Regions from separate parts of the Homo sapiens genome. Here region 2 is linked to region 1. Evidence: fine-mapped expression QTL. Tissue or cell type: spleen. Region 1 holds a variant in brackets; the other region holds the start of a gene. All regions are shown on one strand. Distances are from middle to middle. Region 1 holds the start of TGOLN2 (trans-golgi network protein 2). Region 2 holds the start of RETSAT (retinol saturase).

Region 1 (2,905 bases):
CCCTAAATCCCGCCCTTCGTCTTGGCGGCAGCGGGAGACTGAGAGACGCGCGCAGCAGGGGCGGGACTGGAGAGGGGCCCCGCGCGCGGATCTCGCGAGAGCATTAGAGGGCGGAAGCGCTATCCGAGCAGGATGCGGTTCGTGGTTGCCTTGGTCCTCCTGAACGTCGCAGCGGCGGGTAAGACCCTCCATCCCGCATCCCACTCTTGCCCCCAGATCCCCCATTCTCACCTGGGCAGGTCACCTCTAGGCTCGCTTCTTCCCTACCCGACCCACCTCTCCGCTCGCCATCGTCTCCCGCCCCACCCCCCAATCCCCATTCCCCCGCTGCTCCCGATCTCTTCCAGTTCTGAGGAGTTCCTTCTTCCCGCCTGCCCTTCTCCGGTGCTAACTCGTTTTTCTATTTCAGGAGCCGTGCCGCTCTTGGCCACCGAAAGCGTCAAGCAAGAAGAAGCTGGAGTACGGCCTTCTGCAGGAAACGTCTCCACCCACCCCAGCTTGAGCCAACGGCCTGGAGGCTCTACCAAGTCGCATCCGGAGCCGCAGACTCCAAAAGACAGCCCTAGCAAGTCGAGTGCGGAGGCGCAGACCCCAGAAGACACCCCCAACAAGTCGGGTGCGGAGGCAAAGACCCAAAAAGACAGCTCCAACAAGTCGGGTGCGGAGGCAAAGACCCAAAAAGGCAGCACTAGCAAGTCGGGTTCGGAGGCGCAGACCACAAAAGACAGCACTAGTAAGTCGCATCCGGAGCTGCAGACTCCAAAAGACAGCACTGGCAAATCGGGTGCGGAGGCGCAGACCCCAGAAGACAGCCCCAACAGGTCGGGTGCGGAGGCAAAGACCCAAAAAGACAGCCCTAGCAAGTCAGGTTCGGAGGCGCAGACCACAAAAGATGTCCCTAATAAGTCGGGTGCGGACGGCCAGACCCCAAAAGACGGCTCCAGCAAGTCGGGTGCGGAGGATCAGACCCCAAAAGACGTCCCTAACAAGTCGGGTGCGGAGAAGCAGACTCCAAAAGACGGCTCTAACAAGTCCGGTGCAGAGGAGCAGGGCCCAATAGACGGGCCCAGCAAGTCGGGTGCGGAGGAGCAGACCTCAAAAGACAGCCCTAACAAGGTGGTTCCAGAGCAGCCTTCC[C/T]GGAAAGACCATTCCAAGCCCATCTCCAACCCTTCTGATAACAAGGAGCTCCCCAAGGCTGACACAAACCAGCTTGCTGACAAAGGGAAGCTTTCTCCTCATGCTTTCAAAACCGAATCTGGGGAGGAAACTGACCTCATTTCTCCCCCGCAGGAGGAAGTTAAGTCTTCAGAGCCTACTGAGGATGTGGAGCCCAAAGAGGCTGAAGATGATGATACAGGACCCGAGGAGGGCTCACCGCCCAAAGAAGAGAAAGAAAAGATGTCCGGTTCTGCCTCCAGTGAGAACCGTGAAGGGACACTTTCGGATTCCACGGGTAGCGAGAAGGATGACCTTTATCCGAACGGTTCTGGAAATGGCAGCGCGGAGAGCAGCCACTTCTTTGCATATCTGGTGACTGCAGCCATTCTTGTGGCTGTCCTCTATATCGCTCATCACAACAAGCGGAAGGTAAGTCGACAGCGGCCTTCCGGAGGGGAGTGGGGTTTCCAGCACCCTGGAAGCTTGGGTGTGGGTGGGTATCCCGTCACTAGATGCCCGTGAGCACTGGGGACTTTAAAACAAACTTCAGTTTTTTCCTCAGGCCCTATTAGGCCTCTTTACTCTTGTTTTGTTAATCGTGTTTTCATCCTGTCACCTGTTTACTCTGAGTGTCCTCTGCTACTGCATTAGGAGCCAAGTTAGGACATTATTAGGATCTGACCTGACTTGGAATCTCCTCCCATAACTTTGCACTTAGGTCCTTCACAGCCTCAGAGGACCTGAGTACTTGACAGTTAAAGCACGTACCTTCCATCCTATTTCCCTTCTTGAGACGATATGTCATTTCTAGCTTCCTTTCCCAACATTCTCTCTTCCATCAGCAGTGGCACAAAGAATGGTTTCAATTACTGCGTCTTCGATACCAGGACCAAAGAGCCCAGGGACTTCTGCAATTAATAATAATTAGAAGAAAGCCCAGAAATTGCACAGACACGTACACCTGTTACTTTTTCATCAGGGTTTGGTCTGTTTATTAGCAACCACTCTAATGACAAAATGATTGCATTTCATATTGAGCCCCCAACATTTAGAAGCTAGTTTCTGTAACCTGCTTAAAATTGGAGAGTCCAATTCTGGCCATAAGGCCTATGGCTATAAAGAATAAAGGGGAAGACCTTTAGTAAAAATGTGCATTCCTGGCCCGGTGCAGTGGCTCCTGCCTCTAATCCCAGCACTTTGGGAGGCCGAGGCAGGAGGATCGCTTGAGCCCAGGAGTCCGAGACCAGCCTGGCCAACATAGCAAGACCTCGTCTCTACATATAATAAAAAAATTAGCCAGATGTGGTGGTGGACGTGTGTGGTCCCAGCTACTCAGGAGGCTGAAGTGGGAGGATGGCTTGACTGTGGGAGGTCGAGGCTTCAGTGAGCCATGATCACGCCATTGCACTCCAGCCCGGGTGACAGAGTGAGACCTTGCCTCTAAGAAAAAAAAAAAGTGTATTTCTTATTCTATGTCCAAGTGTCCATTATGCAGGGTAACCTTAGTCATGAAATGAGATTGATAAAGAATGTAGTTGATGTAGCATCGTGGGGTGAAAAAGTACATTTGTAGATAGGAAATTCTGATTATGACTTTTTTTAAAGGAATGTCCTATATCCTAGATATCTCTAGGAAGGAGTTGATAGATCTTTGACTGTGTACCTTTGAATAAATCAAACAGACTTCCTCCCACACGCTAGAGCTCAGACAGCCTTCTATTTGTTATTTCCTATTAAGCAATACAAA
Region 2 (2,905 bases), 28 kb before region 1:
ACTAGACCTGGTTCCAACAATGGTAGAAATTCAAAATGCAACACGATGTTCTAACCTTTCTCAGTTATCAGCAATACTGTGCATGTGGCAGCTGGCTAGCCAGTTTGGGCAATTCTAAGTCTTTCATCTGACATTGCTTCCCTCAGGAAAAGGGCTGGACAAGGCTCATACCTCATCACAGGGGAATTGGACATCCGGAATGTCTGTCACATCAAAAATTGCATCCTAAGTGGGCAGATGGCCCACACACAACTGACAATCATAGTTCACAACTTTGGGTGACTAAGGAAGGAGGGTAGCCTCTCTATGAGGTCAGCCCTCCAGGATGCCATAAAAACTGGCTGCTGGTGTCAGGATGCTTTGATTATTAACACTGAGAGGAAGAATACCTCCTGGCTCTTGGGCTTGACATGTGGCTCACTGTAATCCGGGGGACAGGGCAATGCCCCCTTAGTCCTGGCACCCCAGGAACTAAACTGCTCTCACTGTGGCCTCTGGGGCCTCAACATCTGCCTCCCCTTTCCTTTTCCTCCATCATGGCCTCCATGACAGCCTATGACAAAACACACATTGGCCAGCCTTGGCAAGGTGACAGGCGGGTATGGTAATAGCAATCTCAGGAGGGCTCTTCTGTTGCTGTGTAGAAAATGAACCAAGTAGCATAGAATCGTGACCAGCTTTCCACACCTGGCTGGAGCACTCCTGGGGCCTTCAGTAGGGACAGTTACTATCTGTAGCAGAGAAGAAAAGAGCAACAATTCCATTAAACAAGGAAGTACTCAAAGGCAAATTCCTGATAGTTGGACCTAAGGAAACGGCCTTCCTGTAAAAATGGATCCTTCTCCAATCAAGTATTCATTATGCACCCTCTTTAGGCAAGGAGGGGGTATGATTCTTCAACTGCTTGCTGGAGGTTAGATTCTCTGCATAGGAATTTAAATTAGATGGGCCCTTAGCTGATCCTTTCACCATGCTTGTCCATGGGCGGCTCCCCGTCCCCCAGGTTCCCCACGGATGGGGTGTCATTAGGGACCCGCCATAGAGGACTCCGTCCCAGGCGGGCCCCCAGGACAAAACTATGGGCCACTTTGAGGGGCACAGAGACAGACGCTCACCGGTTGTGATGCGCAGGTAACAGAGAGCTCAATTCATCATGACAACCAGTCAGACAGGGGCTGTGAGCAGCCTTTGGACAGAACTTTCGCATAGCCTGGAGGCGTAAGACGAGGAAAGCAATTTAACACCTCAAGGCAGCGAGTCCAGGGCAGAGCCAGGACCAGAACTCAGGACTCCTGTCTCCCAGTCGGGATTCTCTTTCAGTCTTACAACTCTCGGCCTTGTCTCGCCCCATAGTGATAATTTCCACCGGATCACATTCTCCCTCCCTCCTCAGGCCGGCTGCTAGCTCCGCACAGGCACCAACCACTCCCCTTGGCAAGTGTTAACGCGTTCTCACCGTTAAAAGAGCTTTCCAAACTTGGGGGTCCCGCCGCCTCGGCTAGGCCTCATCTGCTCATGCGCACAGCCGCTTCCGTGCCGGCTCCCCTGGCCCCGAGAACTACATTTCCCAGTAGGCAATGGAAACCCAAAAGAAGTACGGAGAGCCGGGAGGGTCAATCATCACCTGAGAGTTGGCTCTTCGCTGGCTGGCTGGTTAATCAGTGCTCAAAGCTGCCTCCGCCTCCTGACTGGAGAGCGAACTAGCCCGGGCGGAGCCACAGTCCTAGAGGCTGAGCGCAGTCGGAGCTGTCCCATTTACCCGACCCGACGCCGGCGTGATGTGGCTTCCGCTGGTGCTGCTCCTGGCTGTGCTGCTGCTGGCCGTCCTCTGCAAAGTTTACTTGGGACTATTCTCTGGCAGCTCCCCGAATCCTTTCTCCGAAGATGTCAAACGGCCCCCAGCGCCCCTGGTAACTGACAAGGAGGCCAGGAAGAAGGTTCTCAAACAAGGTAGCAGGAGGGACCCTGGGGTCCGGGGCTGCACTCGAGGCTTTCTCACAGATTTGGGTTCTCATTTTGCCAAGGCAGCCGCTACCAGACGTGGGCCTTAGTTTCCCCATATGTAAAGTACTAGGAGGGCTTCCTTGCACGTGGAGGAGCCCCGCTTTAGTGTGCAACACTGTCGATAGCCTTTGCCCTAGTAGGCCCCGGGAATAGTAGTCCCAAGGGTGTGGTCATTGTCCTTGGTTTGCAAGGTGTTGGCACCCGCCCTGCCACTTGTAATCCCCGTGGCTCGTGGAACTGATAATCCCCGTGACTCATTCCTCCACTTGGTTCCAGGACCTTAACTTTTTCACCTACCCTCCCATGCGAGCTCAGGGGTGTGGGGGAGCAGCACAGAAATGCGTAGGAAATTGCGTTTTGCCCGTCCGGTGATTTAACAGGCTTTGCATGGTCCCAAATCGTAAGGATTGAACCCTAGTTCTGAAACATTGGCAGAGGTTCAACAAGGCGCCTCAGGCTCAGAGCCTGCTCTCCACTCTCATCTTTAAAACATATTTTGTGGTTGCTTCTAGAGTTTAAAGAGTTCTGCTGCTTTAAAAAATAATGGATCACCTGTTTGATCTACGGAGTCCCTCTCACTTGTAAATTTTAGAATTCTCCGTGTCATATCTTGCTACACAATCGGAGACAGTACTGTTCTAAGTGGAAGGACTAATCATCTGGACTTCTGAGAACTGAGTTTTAGCTTGGACTCTGTCACTAATTTGCTGCATAACCATTAGCACCTACCTGGGCTGGTCTAAAAATGAGATGACTAGCTTAACTGCTTTTCAAACCGGATTGTGATCTATTAGTGGGCTATGAAATCAATTTAGTGAGTTGCAACTGGCATTATTTATTTATTTATTGAAACAGAGTCTCGCTCTATTGTCCATGCTAGAGTGCAGTGGCGCGATCTCCG

What was found. PIP is the estimated chance that this variant, and not a neighbour inherited with it, causes the effect.
Region 2: RETSAT starts here. The variant in region 1 is fine-mapped to the expression of RETSAT in spleen (GTEx, PIP 0.98).

The regions. Positions count from the first base shown.
Region 1 is chr2:85,325,190-85,328,094 of GRCh38, reverse strand. It overlaps TGOLN2 (trans-golgi network protein 2), which reads left to right and starts at 106. Exons shown (of 4, transcript NM_006464.4): 1 at 106-178; 2 at 410-1,587. The coding sequence starts at 133. RefSeq lists enhancers at 1-53, 914-1,093, 1,334-1,503. The variant C/T (reference allele first, on the strand shown) is at 1,138.
Region 2 is chr2:85,353,381-85,356,285 of GRCh38, reverse strand. It overlaps RETSAT (retinol saturase), which reads left to right and starts at 1,758. Exons shown (of 11, transcript NM_017750.4): 1 at 1,758-1,950. The coding sequence starts at 1,779. It overlaps ELMOD3 (ELMO domain containing 3), which reads right to left and starts at 1,517. Exons shown (of 14, transcript NM_001135022.2): 1 at 1,457-1,517; 2 at 1,116-1,210; 3 at 688-731. RefSeq lists enhancers at 1,061-1,120, 755-1,254, 1,291-1,690, 1,255-1,756.